Regions from separate parts of the Homo sapiens genome. Here regions 1, 2, 3, 5 and 6 are each reported to be linked to region 4. Evidence: microRNA targets listed by miRTarBase, many of them from high-throughput screens and not tested one by one. Region 4 holds a microRNA gene; each other region holds the end of a gene's coding sequence.
The links. Region 4 holds the annotated microRNA hsa-miR-6754-3p (UCUUCACCUGCCUCUGCCUGCA, at 1,716-1,737, shown strand). A microRNA usually pairs through its seed, bases 2 to 8, with sites in the 3' UTR of a target mRNA and lowers its output. Matches are read on the target gene's strand: a 7mer-m8 pairs with bases 2 to 8, a 7mer-A1 pairs with bases 2 to 7 and ends in A, and an 8mer does both.

Region 1: the mRNA of ENAH is a reported target of hsa-miR-6754-3p. The part of its 3' UTR that is shown has no 7-base or 8-base seed match.
Region 2: miRTarBase lists MYO9B as a target of hsa-miR-6754-3p. The part of its 3' UTR that is shown has no 7-base or 8-base seed match.
Region 3: the mRNA of HRK is a reported target of hsa-miR-6754-3p. The part of its 3' UTR that is shown has no 7-base or 8-base seed match.
Region 5: miRTarBase lists SUSD5 as a target of hsa-miR-6754-3p. Seed matches in the 3' UTR shown: 7mer-A1 at 2,253-2,259.
Region 6: miRTarBase lists ZNF260 as a target of hsa-miR-6754-3p. Seed matches in the 3' UTR shown: 7mer-A1 at 1,527-1,533.

The regions. Positions count from the first base shown.
Region 1 is chr1:225,494,642-225,498,332 of GRCh38, forward strand. ENAH (ENAH actin regulator) reads right to left here. Exons shown (of 14, transcript NM_018212.6): 14 at 1-3,171. The coding sequence ends at 3,134. Among named protein-coding and RNA genes, the nearest start is that of LINC02765, 29 kb to the left of the region's middle.
Region 2 is chr19:17,211,236-17,214,926 of GRCh38, forward strand. MYO9B (myosin IXB) reads left to right here. Exons shown (of 40, transcript NM_004145.4): 39 at 412-539; 40 at 660-2,051. The coding sequence ends at 1,075. Among named protein-coding and RNA genes, the nearest start is that of USE1, 2.3 kb to the right of the region's middle.
Region 3 is chr12:116,878,284-116,881,974 of GRCh38, reverse strand. HRK (harakiri, BCL2 interacting protein) reads left to right here and starts at 534. Exons shown (of 2, transcript NM_003806.4): 1 at 534-999. The coding sequence starts at 668. The coding sequence ends at 943. RefSeq lists an enhancer at 1-341 and silencers at 847-926, 1,805-2,005.
Region 4 is chr11:71,471,831-71,475,521 of GRCh38, forward strand. MIR6754 (microRNA 6754) reads left to right here and starts at 1,673; the gene lies at 1,673-1,738. NADSYN1 (NAD synthetase 1) reads left to right here. Exons shown (of 21, transcript NM_018161.5): 6 at 619-670; 7 at 1,448-1,536; 8 at 1,739-1,856; 9 at 2,565-2,696. RefSeq lists enhancers at 497-1,404, 1,405-2,311.
Region 5 is chr3:33,149,597-33,153,287 of GRCh38, forward strand. SUSD5 (sushi domain containing 5) reads right to left here. Exons shown (of 5, transcript NM_015551.2): 5 at 447-3,691. The coding sequence ends at 3,146. Among named protein-coding and RNA genes, the nearest start is that of CRTAP, 37 kb to the left of the region's middle. RefSeq lists an enhancer at 3,219-3,691.
Region 6 is chr19:36,511,220-36,514,219 of GRCh38, reverse strand. It overlaps ZNF260 (zinc finger protein 260), which reads left to right. Exons shown (of 3, transcript NM_001166037.2): 3 at 1-3,000. The coding sequence ends at 220. Among named protein-coding and RNA genes, the nearest start is that of ZNF260, 16 kb to the left of the region's middle.

The DNA of each region.
Region 1 (3,691 bases), not on the chromosome of region 4:
TACATTACTTAGTATTCACGACTTCTATGAAATCTGTAAAGAATAGTGACGTGACATGTAAACTTTTAAGTAGTAAAGTCTTGGACTTTAAAAGGTGTTTTTCACATCCAATATAACTTACTTTAAAACAAATTATTTCAGAAGATTATCTAAGTGTCACAAACAAGCAACATATATATACTGCAATTTTATTTCAATCGCACAAACGAAGTTAGCGTGTAGGAAACTTAAATGAAACAAATTTAAACGAAATAGTTACGGTAAAAATAGCAGAAAACTGAAAATTCTAAAAAGGAAGTACACCTAAAAGCATGAGAATTCAACATTCATTAGTGTTTCATCTTCAGTTTTGATTGACACTTGATGCTTGCAAATTTTTAAACAAACTTTTAAATCATGATGACTATTCTGAAGAGATTTCAGCACCAGCACTAAGATTTGTACATTCAGTTTGTTTGCAATTGACTTGTGAGCCATTTACATAGTGGATAGTACAGACTTGTCACAGGTCAGATCACAGTGTTGAGGAAAGCAGTGCCTTCCTGTCATTAGAAAGGATCCCCTAAACTGTACTCAGCTTAAGACATCCAACGTACAAGAGCACAAAAACCATCATAATAATGTGGTTCCAAGGAACGTGGTTTTGATAAGGTAAATAACTTAGGCTTCTGTTTCCCATTTTAATTACTGAAATCTCTAATAATGACACAACTGTCATGTATGATAGCAAATGTATATAATAATTCATTCAGACTTCTTGGAAAGAACATTTAGCAATCTGGGATGATGGGAAATATAGCATGATTCAACACTGGTTTTTTTTTTTTTTTTTTTTTGTCAGTTTACACATACATCATGTTAATATTAGACCAAGGCACAAAACGTTTAGTGCATAAACCCAGTTTCTTTTAAGATTTAGCATTTTATTTTAGTCTCTTATCTTAGTTTGGACCACTTGTACCCAGTACTCTACCTACTACAGACTATTTAACTTACCCAACAAAATCAAAAGAGGTTGCTGACCAGATTTATAGGGGACATAACTGTTTATATTATCAAAGTGTTTGCATAACCAAAAGTACAATAATAAAGATGAAAATGCCTCCTATTTCTTTTAGAAAATAATACTTAATAAGCTTGCTGCATCTTTGATGTTTTTACTACTACTGCATGACAATGAATATCTGATAGAAAAAAGAAATGTATACTTGAATTATGATAGCTCATCCATCACAGTTTAATCTAAAAATGAAATTTCTACAGAAACAGGAACTATTTTGACAAAGAAAAAAAAAATCCCTCATCCAAACTTCTTTGTAGTGGTAAAGGCTGCAAATTTGCAGCGTTTAGAAAACTACACTATCAACAAGCTTTGCTTTATGGACTGAGATGTACAAAATCTAGAAAGCAGATGAAAGTGAATTATTTCAAAGTTTTAGTAAAACTTCTGATAATCAGAGTTCAAAGCAAATATGGCACATAACAACTCAAGCATAAATCAAGATGGAGAGCCTGGAGAGTTTCTTAAATTTTCCAAAAAGCTATCATTCCAACATGTAGGATTTCTCCCCTATTTTAACCTTACCAGTTTCAAAGGAAAGAAAAGGGAGTGGCTTCCATATAGACAGCACGTGCGCGAGAGCACACACACGCAGAGTGGCAGGCAGAGTGTCTAATTCCTTCTTCCCACCTTCCTTCTTCCCACCACCCAAGTCTCACTTTACTTATTAAAAGAAAACTGCAGAACTCCTCATTGGTTTTCCTTTACCTAATGATTTCTGTGACCTTAATTGCTGCCATCATTGTTATTTCTTGCATTTCAACATAACAAAATTCAAAAGCAGCTTCATTCAGGAACACGTATCTAAACACCTGTGTAACAGCGGGGGTACCTAGGTAATAATAACTGCCAAATTCAGTGATCAAACTTTTGAGTTCCACAGTTAAGATATTATGTGAAGCTCAGAATCATGTTTCAGACCATTGAAATTACTGGTTAAAATACAAATAGCTGAAGACATGATGTAAAAGATTAAGTACTTGGTTTTGTAACATATTTACCAATTAAAGTCACAAAATATTTCTCATTATTTATTCATGCAGGTAACTGAGAAAAAGATAGTGCAGAAATCAACTTTAAATAAAAAATTATTCCTCCCCTTCCTCCCACTCCCCTATACTCTACAAAATGTTTTCCCTGGGACTAGGCCTTGAAAAGGCCACTACATATTAGTGTGACATGCATTACTGTCTGCAATTAAAAAAGCTAACCTTGTGGTGATTGTAATTACATTATAAAAATGTCCACATGCATAAATCTAAAAAAGGTTGAAAACCTACAGTAAATCTACAATATAGTGTTTACATTTGACCACTGGTTTGTGTTATGTAGAAGTCATAGATTTGGTAAAGCATTGTAACAATTTAGGAAGGCATCTAAATCTTTAAGTTCTGGACAAATTTTATGTTTTAATCTACAAAATTGCATGAAGGCTAACTCGAGAAACTTCCTATCATTCTAAAATTTCTCAAGCTGAAGAAACATTTTTCGGACACTTTCTTATAAATATTACCCTTTGAAAGCACTTACAATTCCATTTGTTCCACATATTATGATCTTAACTTACATAGGGCTGATCTCAATTATTCATGGAATATCAAACATGATAGGAAGAACAAACCTGAGAGAAACATTACAATACAATAGCAAACTTGCTCAATTCTTTACCAGCACTCTCTGCAAAAAAACTTCCTAAGCCTTTCTCCTCTTTATTTTAGCAATGTATTGTGGAAAATGTGCGACTTTATCTTGATATGAAAATATTTCAATGCGTGGTGATCTTGCCTGATGGGTTTTAGTATTTTCTGCATAACTGTTACAGGAACTCTTAAATGATTCTCTTCCATTCTGTTGTAAAGGCCAGAAAAAAGCAGCAAACGGAGAGGGAAAGAGCTTATCACCAGAGTCATAATGTCTGAAGGCTTTCAGAGTAGGTTGGTTTTTCCCTCCTTCTGTTTGTCTCCATTTTCTTCTTACAGCTCATAAATGTAGGGGTTTGCTGTTGTGAACAGTTGTTGTTTGTAGGATATTTTTCCTCCAGATTAAAGTCCTATCTCTCCTTAGTCTGTTCCTCTATGCAGTATTTGACTTGCTCAGTTCCTGCCTGATTGCTGGATGGAAAAGAACAAGTATTGAAAATAAATATAATGATAAAGTAAGATAAATGAGTGATTCATTCCTAAGAAACTTTAAGGATTGTGCTCAAACTCACAGTAATAAGAAGATTAACTTTGCATCTTTCATTGCACACATCTTTAATATTAGAAAGATGATACTAATTTCTATATATTTATTTTCTCCTTTTGTATACAAAATGAAAACACTGATTATGTGGGCTCAAAAACAAGAGGACACTGGGATAGGTGAGTAGAGGTAACCTAGAGAAAGATCTGTTCATGTGGTTTTCCATCTAAGAAAAGACAACACCTGAAACTTAGGGATATTGTTTAATCCCTATTTATAAAAATAATTTCCATTATATGAAGGAGAAACCTCCTCCCCAAAACCCTAATCCTAAAAGGGCAGGACTATGGAAGTCATTGCCCTCAACTAATCAGCTGGGTATTTCCTTATTTGCATTTTCTTAAAAATGGTCAATCTTAAACATTGTTTTATAGGAATAGTAAATTT
Region 2 (3,691 bases), not on the chromosome of region 4:
CTCCCAAAGTGTTGGGATTACAGGCGTGAGCCACCGCACTCGGCCTTTATTTCTGAGACAGGGTCTTTCTCTGTCACCCAGGCTGGATTGCAGTGGTGCGATCACGGTTCACTGCAGCCACAATCCCCTAGGCTCACGGGGTCCTCCCACCTCAGCCTCCCCAGTAGCCGGAACCACAGGTGGTGCACACCACCACGCCTGGCTAATTTTTTTTACTTTTTGCAGAACAGGGTCCGCCTATGTTGCCCAGGCTGGGTTCAAACTCCTGGGCTCAAGCAATCCTCCTGCTTGGGGTGGGGGGAGGTTGGGGACACAGAGTTACATCTAGGAGCAGGACAGCCTGCTCTGTTCCACACTGGCCCAGCACTTCCGGTGGGGTGGCCTTGGACACCACTACCCTTTTTCCTCCAGGGAGGACATCACCTACCGGCTGCCGGAGCTGGACCCAAGGGGCTCGGACGAGGAGAACCTGGACTCGGAGACGTCGGCCAGCACCGAGAGCCTGCTGGAGGAGCGGGCCGGGCGGGGGGCCTCGGAAGGTCAGTATTAAGGTAGCGTCTGCTTTTCTCCTTCCCGTCCATCCCAGCAGGCCCCAGGGCGAGGGTCCTCCGGCTGCCGGCCCTGAAGCTGCAGTAACCCTGCCATCTGTCTCTCAAAAGGGCCCCCTGCGCCTGCTCTCCCTTGCCCCGGCGCGCCCACCCCGAGCCCCCTCCCCACCGTGGCCGCCCCTCCACGACGAAGGCCGTCGTCCTTCGTAACGGTCAGAGTGAAGACCCCCCGGCGGACCCCCATCATGCCCACGGCCAACATCAAGCTCCCACCAGGCCTGCCCTCCCACCTGCCTCGCTGGGCACCGGGTGCCCGGGAGGCGGCTGCCCCAGTGCGGCGCCGGGAGCCACCTGCCCGCCGCCCGGACCAGATACATTCCGTGTACATCACGCCCGGGGCAGACCTGCCAGTGCAGGGCGCCCTGGAGCCCCTAGAAGAGGATGGCCAGCCACCTGGGGCCAAGCGGAGGTACTCGGATCCCCCAACGTACTGCCTGCCCCCCGCCTCGGGCCAGACCAATGGCTGAGAGCCACAGCTGACAAAGTCTGCATGTCCGAGGACGGCCCCTGCACTGGAGCTGGGCGCCAGAGCTGCAGAGCTAGTGTTCGGCCCTCAGAGAAGGATCCAGAATCAAAAGCTCAAGAGTGACGTGAGGTGGGCACCGGCCCCAAGTGCAGAGTCAAGGCAGGGAGAGGCCGGCTGGAGCCAGGCCCCCTCGCACGCAGCCCCCAAATCATGGACGCACCTGTGGGGAGCACCACATCTCCACCTGCGGCCTCACATCTCCCCACTCCCCTTTTTGTACGTTTAACTGTTTCTTTGTACGTGGTTTACGTAACTTTAAACTGTAACAGCCTTAATGGAAGACCAAATGGTTTTTTATATGTGTATGTACAAAGTTTTCTATTAACGCTGCCCGTCTCCCTTATAACCTGGACGTGAGCTGTCAGAGCAGAAGCCACTAGGCCACTGCGCGTCTGAGGCTCAGACCCTGCTGTGGTTGGCTTGGGGTGGCCAATGGGCTGGGACCCTCCATGAGAGTTTTGGACACTTGGGTCACCTGACCCGTGCCTCTCTGACACATGTCTCCGGGGGGCAGCCACCTGGCCAATGTGCATTTTTGCACATGCTGGAACCTTCCATGGGGGTCTGGGCTATTGGCTGGAGCCAGGACATGAGTCAGGGGCACCATGGACCTCACGTGCCAGGGAGACTTGAATGTGGCTGTCACTCTTCCGGACGCCAAGGGCTGCAGGAGGCTGCTTTTGGCACTACCCACCCCGTGTGACAGAATAGGAGCCAGCGACTCAGGACTGCTCACGGGTCAGGAGGGCAACGCCTGAAGTCAGACCTCCCTATAGGTCAACAGGGACAACCTGGGGATCTCTGGAGCAGGGCCCTCCTCTCTCAGGCTTGGCCCACTCCCCCAGACACCTGGACACGTGGCCACAAATCTGGGACAAGGGGCCCCCGCACAGCATGAAATAAAAAGTGCCTGAGAAGTGTGTGCATGGGACGCCTGCTCATATGGGATCGGGCTTGGAAGAACAGGGCCGGTGGGTGGGGGTCTGCCCTGTGGCCTCAGCCAAGAAGGGTGCAGAATATGGGTGGAACACTGTCCTCAAAGTTCTGTCTTGATCCTCCACCAAACAGGGAGCTCCCAGCAGAGCCTCACTTGGCCAGGAGCGCCTGCTGTCCTGGCAGCCCTCTCTGGCCTCCCTGATTCAGTGCCCAGCCTCTGGAGCCTAAATGTCAGCTGCAGCAGCCACCCATCCAGCAGAGGTGGCCAGTTCCTGGTGGGCCCAGCAGGACAGGAACAGATGGGCTCCCAGGCTGCCATCGGATGGGAGTCGTGGGAACTGGCTGGCTGGTATTGGTTGGGGCACCGTGAAGAACCCAAGTTCAGACAGCACATGCCAGAGGTTGAGGGGCTTCTCCAAGGCCACACAGTTGGGAGGGGCATGGCTGGGATTTAGACTCTGCCCTGCCAGCCTCTAGAGGCCCCTTTGATGGGCCCTGGGTTTGGTCTCCATTGTTTGTTGTGGGTTTTTTTCTTGAAACACGGTCTCGCTCTGTCACCCAGGCTGGAGTGCAGTGGCGCGATCTCGGCCCACTGCAGCCTCCACCTCTCGGGTTCAAGCGATTCTCCTGCCTCAGCCTCCCGAGTAGCTGGGATTACAGGCACGCACAACCAAGCCCAGCTAATTTTTGTGTTTTTTGATAGAGACAGGGTTTCACCATGTTGGCCAGGCTGCTCTCCAAACTCCTGACCTCCAGTGATCCATCCACCTCACCCTCCCAAAGTGCTGGGATTACAGGCGTGAGCCACCGCACCTGGCCCTCCATGGTATTTTCTTTTTTTTTTTTTTTTTTTGAGACGGAGTCTTGCTTTGTTGCCCAAGCTGGAGTGCAGTGGCACAATCTCGGCTCACTGCAACATCCACCTCCTGGGTTCAAGCGATTCTCCTGCCTCAGTCTCCCAAGTAGCTGGGATTACAGGCACCCACCATCACGCCCGGCTAATTTTTGTATTTTTAGTAGAGACGGGGTTTCACCATGTTGGCCAGGCTGGTCTCAAACTCCTGACCTCAGGTGATCCATCTGCCTCAGCCTCCCTAAGTGCTGGGATTACAGGTGTGAGCCACCGCACCTACCCGTCTATGATATTTTTCAAGGACATCAGGCCCACTGGTGTAACCAAGGTGCAGATGACCTAAGGTGTGGGAAAACATGAAGGCTGCATGCCAGGCCCTGGTTCCTGTGAAGCCCCCACCCTCATCCTGTCACTCCAGAAGAGAGGCACTGCAAGGCATAGGGGTACTCAGCTTCCAGGTACTGAGGTGGGCTGGGAAGGGGTTCTCCATGGGGGTCTGGGCGTTAGGGGGGACCCAGCCCCACCTTGCTCACTCTCAGGCAGAGCTGTCTCATGTGCCCCTTGAGGCAGGTACTGTCACACTGTCCATTTCCCGGGGGAAGAAGCGGATCCAGAAAAGTTAAACTCTCCCAGGGCCGAGGATGGAATCAGAGCTGGAGCTGTGACCTGGAAACCCATAACCACAATACAGATGAGCCCTGCTGAGGTGGGGGAAGCCTTGGATTCCTGAATCCCAGGCTACAGAAATCGGGAAGGGTGTGTGGACGT
Region 3 (3,691 bases), not on the chromosome of region 4:
GGCACGTTAGGGTCAGGCTGAAAGCCTACAGGTGCCAAGTCAGACCTGAAACGAGGCAAGTTGGGTGTAATCTGACCCTTCCATAAGATTTTGAATCCACCCACCTCCCCCAAACAAAACAACAGCCTCGGAATATTTTTGAATAATGCAGCCGAATTCAGCATCAGCTTCATCCAAAACGGCAAACAAGCCTTTTTCCCTCGCCAAATCGGAACTCGAGCTGAATTCAGGAAAAGGGGAAGGAGAACAACCTTCCCTCGCGCTCCGCGCCTCCGCGGGGGTCCCCCGAGACCCCCAAAGCCCAGGACCTCCGCTGCGGGGAGCCTTCTCGCGCCGCCCCGCGCCGCGCTCCCCGTCTCCCAAACCTCGCGCTCCCTAGCTGCCGGCGCCGCTAGGGTTAAAAGTTACCTCTCGGTTTCTTCTGCCTGCAGCCCCCCCCCCAACCCCCGGGGGCCGGATGATGTAACCCCCCTCCCCGCCCCCCTCCACCATGTGACACTTTAATTAATAATAGCGCCGTCAGCACAACAAACGCACAACACAAGGAGAAACTTGGTGTCCAGGGGAGGCCCCCGGCGGCTGGAGCGCGGCGGCAGCGGGCGCAGAGGCCGGAGGGAGAGGAGGCGAGGGGCGGCCCGAGCGCGGGGCGGGAGCGAGGCCAGCGGTCATGTGCCCGTGCCCCCTGCACCGCGGCCGCGGCCCCCCGGCCGTGTGCGCCTGCAGCGCGGGTCGCCTGGGGCTGCGCTCGTCCGCCGCGCAGCTCACCGCCGCCCGGCTCAAGGCGCTAGGCGACGAGCTGCACCAGCGCACCATGTGGCGGCGCCGCGCGCGGAGCCGGAGGGCGCCGGCGCCCGGCGCGCTCCCCACCTACTGGCCTTGGCTGTGCGCGGCCGCGCAGGTGGCGGCGCTGGCGGCCTGGCTGCTCGGCAGGCGGAACTTGTAGGAACGCGGGGCTTCTTGGTGGGGCCGGAGCCGAGACCCAGCCGGAGCGAGCAACAGGTACGCGAGCGAGCGAGCGAGAGCCGGGGCGCGGCAGCTGGGCACTGGAGACGCTGGGCTGGCCCGGGAGCGGGAGAGTGGCAAGTTTGGCTTTCTTCTTTTCCCTTCTCCTTCTTCCTCCGTTCTCTTCTCTTGCAAGCATCTCCACCTCTCCTCTTCTACCCAGTCCCCAGTCTTCCCTTCCAAGTGTAAGGTCCACCGTTTCTGCCCCCATCTCTGCGAGTCCTTAAGCGCATCTTGCTACTCACTTATAGCTCAGTGGCTTGCGGAGGACTTCAGCCTCCATAATCCCCACCAGCCCCACAAATAAACACACAATGCAAGTAAAAAGTGTGCTTGCTATGGGAATGTAGTTGTAAGCCACGCCAAATACTTAAAATCTATCGCACTTCCAAGAAAGGTCCCCGGTCCCGTTCCAATCCTCTTGCCGTTCCTGAGTCGCCCCCGTCTCCATCACCTTTGCTCCCAACCTCTTGTCCCTAAGTGTCACTTCTCCAATCTCTGATCCCCATTATCTGGCACCCCAAGCGCATCTCGAGACTTCCTCCCCCTCCAGGTTTCTGGCTGGCCCAATCTTTCTTCCCAAGCTCCGCGCATTTGCAATTTTCCTCTGCCCTGCCAACTTCGCTCCTTCTCGAGTGAGGTGTCCTGTTTAAGGAGTTTGGCTTCCTTCTCCCCAGACGGTTGTAGCTGCTACGGGAAGGAGACGCCCTCGGAGTGGGCTGGAATAGGGGGCTTTCAGGGAAACTCCAATGGGAAGCCTTAAGGAAGGAACATTTATTGAGCTCCTTCGGGGTGCTGGGCACTGTTTAGGGAGGTCATGTGTTGAGAACTTAGGACAGGAAGTGGGTACTGAGCACCTAGTGTGGTTGGTATCAGTGGGAGGAAGGTACTAGGCTCTTGGGGTGGGGGGATCATTGTGCCCTAGCTGTGCGCCTGGCACTGTGCTAGGCGCTTTGAGGAAGCACACAGCGTAAGCATCGTCTTACTACTCTGGATCCTGGAGTAGCGAGGAGCGCTGCAGAGAATGAGGGAGAGAGAATCAGGCTGAGCCCACCATAGATGGGTCTAGGGCCGGAAGGTGAAGCTCGAAGGTGACATAGCCAGCCGCCCTTAGGTCCCCGCCCCCGAGCCCCGCCGCGCGCCGCAGACACCCTGGGAAGTTGGAGCGGCGCCTGAAGGCGAGGCCCGAGCGTCTGCGCCCGCGGGGAAAGGCGGCAGCCGGAGCGTGGGGGGTGGCAGCGCCCAGGGAGCTGCGGGGGTGCGCGGGGTGTGAGCCGGGACCGCAGGCGACAGATGTCGCGTGGGCCCGCGCAGCCCGGGCGCTGGCGAAGAGAAATGCGCGCTTCGGGGCGCTCTCTGCCCGGCTCCCGGGCGCCGGGGGTCCCATCCACTTCTCCCTACCTTCTCTCTCTCCTGTTGGAGAGGCCAGGGGCTCCCGCGACTGAAAGGGGCCAGGCTGAGGCTGCCCAATCCCAGGGACAGGAAGAACATTTTGGATGGATCGCGGGGTGCAGAAAAAGGAAGTTGAGCGACAGACGCGAAGCCCAAAGCGTGGAATTTGGGAAGAGGCAGAAAAAAAGTGGGCGAAGAGGAAGAGAAAAAACAAGCGACGAGATGGGGAGGGACAAGAAGTTTGGGGAGGATAGAGAAAAAGAGAAACTGCCTGGAAAACAAGTTGCAAGACAATTGAAAAGTGAATGAGAAGGAAAGAGAGGAAGGTAGTAAAATCAAATAGAACTGTGGAGAGAGGGCTGGGACACGGCTTTCTCTGGTTCTGTCGTCCAGGAGATTGGAAACGCTCTCCCCTTCCGGCACCAGGCGTGCGGGATGTCGGGTGCCCCTCCCGGGAGGCCGAGGACTCCGGGCCGGAGCCTGACTGTGTGTTCCTGTTTGCCGGTGTGTGAGTGTCGGGGTGGGAATGCTCCCGGGGCCTGGAAGGGGAGGCTGCGGGCGGGGCGGGCAGATTGCGCCGCTCTGCGCCGGAGCGCAGGGGAGGAGTTGGGTAACTGGGGCCTGCGCTGCAGGGGAGGGCGGCGGCCAGGAGTTTCGCTGTTTTGAGTCGGTGTTGGGGGGCAGCAGCAGGTTATTGTCTCTGTGGAGTTTATTTCCCCCGCCCCGCCCTCGCCTTCTACCCCAGAGTTACTTCCGTGCTGCGCCCTGACTCGGAGACACCCTCTTCCCACACCTCTGGGTTCTTCTCCTACCTGCCTTGTCCCGCCCGGGCGTCCCCTGCAGCCACACCCTCCAGGGTTCTGCAGCCTCTGGCGCCCTGACCTCAGGATGCCCCGCTCGGCTTCCCAGCAGCACCGCCCCTCATACCCTCGGGACACCCGTAGAATTGCTCACCACCCGCCTTCCTGCGCTCCCAGGCCGGGTTCTCAGTGCTCGGGCTCCCTGCACTGGCCCTGATCAAGTTCTCTCCCTGCAGCCTACATCTGACCTCAGAATACCAGCCGCTCCGGCCTTTCTTGTGCTTTTGATTTAATTTGGGGAAACTCATTTTTTCCCAGCTCTGGTAAGTTAAGTAAAGGGGAAAGAAAAATCACCGGAGGAAGACAGTCTGTTGCGTTCTATGCTGGATATGGGGTGCTCTCCACCTTCCCTACCCTAAAAGAAAAAGGGGAATGTTCACAGCTGTACCTTAGGTGTTTGAGGGAGGCCTGTGCCAGCCATATAGGGTGGGAACTAC
Region 4 (3,691 bases):
ATTCTAAGAAAGCAAAAAGGAAACGGAGTTCCTTGCAGATCTGAGTGGTGCATCTCGTAACAGCCTATTGGAAGTCAAATGCGTGAACTGTCTGTTTTGAAGATTCCGCCTCTTGGTGGAGCTTCTTGGGACACCTTGCACTAAAGTTGGTATTAAACCCTCCTCCTGATTTCTCGAATTGAGAGCATCATTTTATTCCAGGGATGATACTGGTTTGTCATTGTGTTTCGGGTTAATGCCACACGATTTTTCTGATTCAGTAACAGCGATCAGGAATTCCACCTGGATTTCTCCATGAGGCAACGTGGCCAGTTCTCAGCAAATCCCCTGTGACACATCTCTCAGTAAAGATGAACATGAGCGTGTGGGGAAACTGAGGCAGCCCGAAGCTCGGAGAGCCCAGCCCACCACCATGTCACATAGTCTCCTCAAGCCACCTTCATACTCTTTTCTTTTTACCTGAATGCGATTGTTTATTGCATTGGGGGGAACGCTTGGCAGTTCCTTTGCCAGTTCATCAGTTCGGAGGGTTCAGTTTGAGTTTTGTTTAAATGTAGCCGCCATTCCTCATTTGTCCTGAGATGCTCATCCTCAGCTCCTCGGTGTTTTCCTCTCCAGGCACACAGAGGAGTACTTTCTGCCTCGGATGATACAGGACCTGACAAAGCAGGTGAGTCCCTGGGTGTGGAGCCCGTTTTTCAGTCGGTTGTCGCTGTTCTCGGCCAACAGTGGACCAGGTGGGGCGGGAACGCTTTGGGATCCAGGTAATGGAAGGCACCACAGTGCTCACAGGTCTGAAACAGACAAAGGAGGCAGGTTCCTATAGTGAGGGGGGCTGCGTGGCCAGACAGCAGCCAGGGTGGCTCCTCCTTGCCTTGGGGCTGCTTTTCCTCCCTTCCCCCACTCACACTGGCTTCCTCCTCTTCATTTCCTCCTTGTGGCAGAAGACAGCCTTCTCCATCCCCAGGGGCTATGTTCTGACATTTAAGTGTTATCTAGACCAACAGCAAAATGCCCTACTCTCAATTTTGAATTCTAAGGGAAGGCACCCTGGTGTCCCCTCTCAGCCACTGCCTTGTGGCTGGGAGTGGGGGCCTAGCTTCATCAGCACAGGGCAGCAGCTGCTTCAGTGTGATCACAGGACAGGGTCGCTTCAGAAGCTGCTGGCCCCAATTGGCAGCCCCATCGATGTCCGTGACATTCTGCCCCTTGGCTGCTCAGAGTACAGGCGTCCCCTTCTTCCACACATAGGCTCCTAAGGGCGTCTCTGCCTGGCACCACCCGGTGTCCCATGCGCAGCCGCAGGGCACCCACCTCTTCGGAATGTGCGAGAGCCCAGAGCCAACTCCAGCTCTTGTGGCTGCAGGATGTCCGTGGCCCTAGGTAGTGCGTGGCCCAGACAGGGCATGGCTAGTGAATCTCATGCACTCTTCTCTTCCGACTGCAGGAAACCGTACCCTTCGGAGATGCGGTGCTGGTGACATGGGACACCTGCATTGGAAGTGAGATCTGTGAGGAGCTCTGGACACCCCACAGGTCAGCCCCATGCCCCTGTGCTGTCTGATCGCCCACCTCATATGGGCCAGCTGGGAGGACCTGGGACTGCAGACGTCCTGGGGCCGTGGCCGTGGCCGTGGCCGTGGGCTGGGAGCTGCCGTGGGAGAGTGCAAGGGGCTGCCAGGGAGGCTGGTTTGGAGGAGTCTGGTGGCCTGTTCTCTTCACCTGCCTCTGCCTGCAGCCCGCACATCGACATGGGCCTGGATGGCGTGGAGATCATCACCAACGCCTCGGGCAGCCACCAAGTGCTGCGCAAAGCCAACACCAGGGTGGATCTCGTGACTATGGTCACCAGCAAGGTAGGGGCTGGGCCAGGGAGCGTGCGCCACAGGGCAGACACTGTATCTCAAGAACTCCTGCATCCTCAGTGCCCATCGCAGGGCTGGGCCCACACACAATGGATGTTCCAGGCTAGTAATTATGGCCTGGACTCAACAAGTGTGCCCTGCTGCCCTCCAGGGCTTCGCCGGCACAGCCCATCTCACCCACGCAGCCACCCTATGAAGCAACCCTGTCACCCTCTCTGCCATGACCAGGAACCGGAACGTGCTCCTTGTTCGTTGGCATCATGGTGAGGCGTAGGGAACACCCGTACGTTTGCTGCTCCTGCTGTTGGGCAGTGAGACGTGCGAGGGGCAGTGCTGGTTCATCCTTCACGGGGCAGATGTGGGTCTAGCTGAGCCGCGTTTGAGTCTTGGCTTCATCATGCAGAGCTTTCTTTGGCTTGTCTGAACCTCATCATGCCTGAGGGAGGTGATGGGGTCTGCCTTGTAGGGTTGTTGTGAAGGAAAAACAAATGTTTTGTGTAGAGCCTGGCACCTAGCAAGGCGGGGCTCGCCGCAGCTTCACAGGTCTGTGCTTCCCCACACATATGCGTTATCTCTGCGGTGGTGGGACCACTCAGGATGACCTAGCGGGACTCGGCGGAGGTTCCTGTACTTGGGCAGGTGGCAGGTGAGGGTGGTGGACACAGCTGACCACTCCGCTATGGGGTCCTCCTTTTTCAGAACGGTGGGATTTACTTGCTGGCCAACCAGAAGGGTTGTGACGGGGACCGCCTGTACTACGACGGCTGTGCCATGATTGCCATGAACGGAAGCGTCTTTGCTCAAGGATCCCAGTTTTCTCTGGATGACGTGGTAATGAGCGGGCCTGGACATGCCTGGGGGAGGGTTCTCTGTGCAGAGACCGAGCTCCTGGCTCTCCCCTGTAAGCCGGGTGCTTAGTGAGGGCCCCTGTGGAGAAGCCCCCGGGGGTCCCGCCTGCTCCTGGCTCTCCCCTGTAAGCCGGGCGCTTAGTGAGGGCCCCTGTGGAGAAGCCCCCGGGGGTCCCGCCTGCTCCTGGCTCTCCCCTGTAAGCCGGGTGCTTAGTGAGGGCCCCTGTGGAGAAGCCCCCAGGGGTCCCGCCTGCTCTGATGGCCTCAAATTTACCTGGTTGGTGAGGGGGGACCTCCCGCCCTCGGGTCTGGAGACAGCTGAACCCCGACACACAGCACATAGTAGTGGACGGATGAGGTTGAGGGCAGCTTACGAGTCCTGCGTTCCCACAGTGCGGGAGGAGGGCTCCGTGCCACGCAGGGCCAGGTGGGAGTGTGCTCAGGAACAGAGGGGACGGCCCCCGCTGTGGGAGGCGGGCTCTGTGGTGATGAGAGGATGGGTGCCGCCTGGCCCCTGCGGGTGGGTGTCGTTGGTTTGTTTGAATTCCGAGGGCTGGCAGGGAACCAAAGCCACTCCTTTGAAATTAGCAGGCTCCATGGCCCCTGAGACAGGTCCAGGGATCCCATGTATGGTGAGGCCGTTCAAGGCCCTGTCTGTCTTCCTTGGGTGTTGAGGCCACATATACTCATCTGAGGCCTTATGCCACGCTGCCCCTGAGTCCTGGGAAGCAGAAGTGGAGACCCCAGGACACTCTGGTCAGGGAGGCTTTGTTCTGTGGGGATCTCTGAGCACACAGCGGCCAGCTGCGTGAGGGAGGGCCCTGGGGGAGCTGTGAGTTACAGGTCGGAAGCGCCATTGCTATCCCGAAGCGACACAGATATGTGGGTGCTCCGAGGAAGGAGATGACAGAGAACAAAGCTAAGAACCCTGCTTGGCACATTCCTCACCAGCAACTGAGCTGCCGCTTGGAATGGGGT
Region 5 (3,691 bases), not on the chromosome of region 4:
GAGGTAACATAACTGAGAGTTAGGTTTAGAAAGGGCAGTCTTAGATCTTAGATATAGCAAGTATTAAGACATTATTTTCAAGATTACTAGAGATTTTTTTTTTGAATGGAGCCTTGCTCTGTCCCCCACGCTGGAGTGCAGTGGCATGATCTCAGCTCACTGCAACCTCTGCCTCCCGGGTTCAAGCAATTCTCCTGCCTGATCCTCCTGGGTAGCTGGTACCACAAGCATGCTATCACGCCCGGCTAATTTTTGTATTTTTAGTACAGAAAAGATTTCACCATGTTGGCCAGGCTGGTCTCGAACTCATGACCTCAAGTGATCTGCCTACCTCAGCCTCCCAAAGTGCTGGGATTACCAGTGTGAGCCACTGTGCCCAGCGAGAATTTTTTTCTTTTTTTAAACCTTGGTGCAGTAGCCTAGAAATAAAATACATTCAGCAACTGTTGGGGCAATAATTATTTATTTTAAATATCTCAGAAGCTTTGTGTTAATAGAACCCCCTCCCCCAATTTTCATGAGCATTAAACATTCACCATTCTCAAAACATGCATGACATACAATTTAGATTTACATTGTTTTAATCATTCCCTTTCAACATGAATTTTTAGATTCTATAACATTAATTTAGAGGATACCACACCAATAAGAACTTAAAAACTGATGTGTTGGGTTTATTTCACAGTCCATGTCTACAAATAAAACATTTACCTGTATTAATAATTTGTAATAAATTTATTAATACACTGTATTAATAATTTGTAATAAATTTATTAATACACTGTATTAATATTGCCTATTTGTTGGTATAAATCCAATGTTCTGGGTTATTCCACAATAATAGTTGCTAACACAGTCCCAATGCTGAGACAGAGGTTATTTTATATAGTTAAAAATAGAAAAGTTATCTTGCAGTAGATTAGGATCTAATTTATAAATATATACAGTCTCTGGCTTTTATTCTATTATGTTTTGCTTTGGCTACATGCAGAAAGCATTTTATTCCTATTGTTCTTGACTTCGTCTGATGCACAGGTATTCTAGTTGGTACCTTCAGGCTTTATTTTACCCAACTATGGGGAATAAGATCTTTGATTATGCTGCCTCTCTTTACAGCTACTTCGCCTATTACTTTTCCAAAGCTTGCTGAAAAGAGGTGGCAGGGTAGAAAACATGTTGCGAATGTTTTTTTTCCTTAGGTAAAACACCACCAACAATTTTTCAATCATAAAAAAGATCAGGATTTCCCTCTACCACACAAAAACACTTAGACTGCTATGGTGTCTCAAAATAAATGTGTTGCATTCATCACTTTTTACCACTGATAACTATTTCTAAGAAGGTGATTCATATTAGAAAAATATAACATGTTTCATTTCTGTGCCAACATACAGGAGACTATTGCAGGTGGCATTTAGGCAGCTTCAAATGCCACCTCAGCTGCACACAGCCATGCCTGACTTCCACACAACACACACCACATACTCATCTGTGCCTTTAGGGCTTCAGCTGGCCTCGAAGTTCACATTTGAGATTATTATAAACCAACAGGCTCTCAAACTTGAGTGCATATCAAAATCACCTGGAGGGCTTGTTAAAAACAGAACTGGGCCCTACTCCCAGGGTTCCTGTTTCCTGAGTCCAGGGTGGGACTAGAGAATTTGCATCTCCAACAAATTCCCAGGTGACGCTGATGCTACTGGTCTGAGGACCACACTTTGAGAACCACTGCCATAAACCATCCTCGCTGAGCCACCCTAAGATGATTTAGATGCTACGAAATGGGTTACCCAACAGACAGGATGGATTCTGTTTCCACAGAGCTCCCAGTTTCCACACTAGAGAACAGATCAGCACAGATCATTTCATATTCTTTCACAGATTCTTCTGCTTCTCCATCAAGTATGTGCCCATACTTGATAACCTGGTGTTCGGCCCTCTGAAAACATTTCTTTTTTTTTTCTCCCGTGTCATTCTCTCTTACTGGAGTTCAGAGAAATGGTTAATCCTGAGAGAGGAAACCAAGGACTGAGTTTTGTTAGTCCTGGCAAAAATTCCAAGACATTCCTAGGCACAGACTGGTCAAGGACAACTAGGCCACTGCTTCTGAGAGGAAATGGTACTTACTGGTACAAAGCTAACTTTGTTTTTAAAAAATAATGGCAAATCCTTAACCATGAAATATTGAAAATAAAATAAAATAAATGACAGACTGTCCCACAGAATGGAGGGAACAGAGGGGGATGTGTGTTTCTTCACTCCTCAACTCCCCCAACAAAATGTCAGTCTTAAATTCTAATTTCAAGAAACAATGAAAAAAGAAACCTCAAAGCTTCTAGACTGTGTCCTGGCTCTTGGTTCATCTGCCCTCAGCAACATCACAACATTAAAAGGAAACAACCCATTATTCTTCCATATTCCTCTCCCAATAATTCAATATCCATGTCCTAGATAATACTGCTCTCATACACTTGGTTTATCATGACTATTTATAAAATTTCAGGGCATGAAGCTGGTGATTTTCTTTCTTCAAAAAGGTAATACTGTGATGTGGCTCACACCTGGAATCCTAGCACTTTGGGAGGCTAAGGAGGGCAGATCACTTGAGGTCAGGAGTTCTTGACCAGCCTGGCCAACATGGTGAAACTCCATCTCTACTAAAAATATAAAAAAATTAGCTGGGCATGGTGGTGCATGCCTGTAATCCCACCTACTTGGGAGGCTGAGGCAGGAGAATTGCTTGAACTTGGGAGGCAGAGGTTGCAGTGAGCTCAGATCGGGACACTGCACTCCAGCCTGGGCAACAGCATGAGACTCTGTCTCAAAAAAAAAAAGATAATACTGTGATGAAGGAAGAGGCGATTTTTGACCTCACACTGGAAACAGGGCCCAAGCACAGGTCTGGGATTAGTGTAGTCAATTCCAGGGCAGATGGTGGAGGAGACATTGACATGAGTGATGATGTCACCAAAGCCTCCCTGCCCTCCCAGGTGCTCCAGAGACACTTCTCAGCCTATAAAACAAAGGGCTGAGGAAAAAATGATGAGCCTCAGTCCACCTGCGTCATGCTCTAGTGAATTATCGTGTGATGTGTCACAGTTATTTTCCTCCCAAGTGGCTTTGGGAGAACCCACTCCAAAGGTGCCTAGACCTTCTCCATCTCGATCTGCTGGTGGTAGTGCCGAGCCTGCCGCTGGCCAACATTCAGCTTGTACACAGAGCTCTTGTGCTGGCACTTGCGGTAGCCCCACACCATCCCCACACCTGCCAGGAGCAGCAGTAGGCACAGGACGGTGACAATGGTGGCGATCACAGGGCCTCTGCTGAGGCCAGGACATCCGTCCCCCACACACGACTCCAAGGTGGGATGAAGCTCCTCACTTGCACCTGGCCCGGGGCCTTCCTGTCCAAAGAAGTCTTCAGACAGCAGGTATGGGAAGCTATCCTGGATCTCAGGAACAGTGGTTTCTACTGGAGGCTGGGTGGTTGCCATGATCGTTGAGGGGATGTGGTTAGGTGTCTGCTTGACAGTGTTCACTGTTAATATCTCCAGGGTGGAGCTGGTGAGCTCATAGGACAGGGTGGCCATGGGAGATTCCTCTGTGATGAATCTCCAGGGTAGAGTTGACTGGTACTTCGTCAAGTCACCATCCCCAATGCCCTCAGTCTCGGAAGCATTCACGGGTCTGAG
Region 6 (3,000 bases), not on the chromosome of region 4:
CTTCTGTCAAAGCTCATCTCTTACTGTGCATATGAGAAGCCATACAGGTGAGAAACCCTATGGTTGTAATGAATGTGGGAAAGCCTTTTCTCAGTTCTCAACCCTTGCTCTGCACATGAGAATCCATACTGGTGAAAAACCTTATCAGTGTAGTGAATGTGGGAAAGCTTTCAGCCAAAAGTCACATCACATTAGACACCAGAGAATTCATACTCATTAAAGTTCTCTATGAATGCCTTGGATTTAGCAAAACGTTCAGCAGATTTTACACTTAATAGTGTATTGGAAAATTCATTTTACATTAAAGTGACATGAATGTGGGAAGTCCTTCAGCAGCAATTCAAAACTTAAATACTATGATGTTTAATAAGTATTATAGTGTAAAGAAAACCCGTACCCCCAAAACTCCCACAACAAGCATTATCAATGCTGTACTTCTAGGAGTATACTCATTAAAGTTAGGATCTAGTCATGGACACTACTTAATGTGTTCCTGGAAGGCCTACAGATGCATTAAGAAATAGATATGAGATGTATGAGGATTTGAAATTAAGAGACAAAATTATCATTTTTGTGATGTTTTGCTACATATATGAATTGTAAAACTAGAATCATCAAAATTATTTGTTGTTGAAGCAGTCATAAAACTGAGACTGAGACAGAATATTGAATTCAGAAATGTGTGCATGAATATATGGGGAATTGGTAATTGATAGAGGCGGTATCCCAGATTGGTGGGGAAATCATGGATTACTTAAAAATTAATTGACTCTTCATATGGAAAAATAATATCTCCCATCATAATATAAAATATTTTTCTTATGAATTCTTAAAGTACTAAAGACTAAAATGCAAAAAGCAATACTTAATAATATAACAGTTTTATAAGAAGATGTTTTTAAAACCTTAGGGCAGGAAAGAACTTCTAAAACATTCCAGAATACCCGGTAGTTCCACTCTTGAGTATGGTAGTCCCCTATTTTCTGCAAGAGATGGACTCTAAGACCCCCAGTGGATACCTAAAACCCAGATAGGACCAAACTCTATGTCTATGTTTTTTTCTTATATATACATACCTATGATAAAATTTAGTTTACAGATTAGACACAGCAAGAGATTTAAAACAATAATAAACATAATATGGAACAATTATAACAATATACTGTAATCATAAAAGTTATGTGAATATGATCTTTCTCTCAGAATACCTTATTGTACTGTTCTCAACTATTTATGAACTGTGGTGACTACAGGTAACTGAAACCATGGAAAGCAAAGCTGTGGATAAGGGGGAACTACTATATATATGCATCTACCCAAGAAACATGAACACAGGGAGTCATGTACTGGTCTATAGCTGTATAGTTCATTGCACCATGAGTTATAGTAGCCAGAAGTTGGGAAACAAATGCTGTCTCTTGTGAAATAGATGAATAAAATGTGATAGTAACATAGTAGAGTACTCTCTAGCAGTTAAGTGACAAATTAAGTCTATATATTAACAGAAATATTTTTAAAAAATTAGAGTGAAGAAAAATGATGAACATATTGTAATGATGCTTCTGTGAATTTGAATAAAATCAACACTAACCAGCCCTAGTACTAAGAATTGGTTATGGATAAATTATGTAAAACTAAAGAATGGATTGAAAGGATATGTATATACTCAGTTCCCAAAAGTGGAGTGGTTACCTCTAGGAAGAAAGGAGGTGGAAGGGAAATGTTACCAAGCATGGTAGTTAAAGGATACTTCAATTTTGTATCTATTTCTTATTAAAAAGAAACATTCTAAGTAAACATAACGAAATATTAATTCTGGGTGGTGGTAATATTTGTGTTCATTCTATCATTCGTGCTATTTATTTCCTTAAACTTCTGAAAGTTAAAAAGTCCAGATAGGAGTGAGGAAGCTGTACATGAAACATAATGGACTTACATTCCTAGTCAGATACTAATATTCTGTAGAAGATATTTCTAAAATCTTATCTTTAAAATATGAAATAATTTTTAATTGGGGTGGCAACTTAAATTCAATTAAAATAACTCATGTGTCACAAGAGTAAATTTTACATAATCTGTACGTAGTTCTAATCTGTATATAGTCTTGGAGGTTATGATTTGCCACAGATTGGTTGGATCACATACATTTAAGGATCATATTATTAAATAATATATGCACAGACATGGAGAGAATTAGTTTTTACTAAAACATTTATCAGAAATTTTAATACTCTGCATAACCAGTATTAGCATTAGAAATTAGCCACTTTTAAAATGAGAAAACTGTGTCACTCTTCAATTTTTTTATAAGCCATTGAGGAAAACATTAACTCCTGGATTTCAGCTTCACTTTTAACCTGCAGACTAAATTTCTTTCTCAATTATGTCAGACACACCCAAGTCAATCCCAACCCCCTTGTTACCTTGGGAAGACCGTGCTGAAAAAGGAGATCTTCCACCTAAACAGTGTTCTCTTATTTGAAGCAAATCTTTTTGAGAATTTGTTTACTTGATTTCTTTCCACAATAAACTGACAGAGAACGCTACTAATGATTTTTTTTTTTTTTTGAGACGGAGTTTTGTTCTTGTTGCCCAGGCTGCAGTGCAATGGCACAATCTTGGCTCACTGCAACCTCTGCCTCACAGGTTCAAGTGGTTCTCCTGCCTCAGCCTCTTGAGTAGCTGGGATTACAGGCATGCGCCACCATGCCCGGCTAATTTTGTATTTTTAGTAGAGACGGAGTTGCACCATGTTGGCCAGGCTGGTCTTGAATTCCTGACCTCAGGTGATCCACCTGCTTCGGCCTCCCAAAGTGCTAGGATTACAGGTGTGAGCCACCACGCCTGGCTAATTTTGTATTTTTAGTAGAGATGGGGTTTCTCCAAAGGCTGGTCTTGAACTCCCGACCTCAGGTGATCCGCCCACCTTGGCCTCCCGAAGTGCTGGGATTACAGGCGTGAGCCACCGTGCCCGGCCTGATGTTTTTGAATGATTATGAA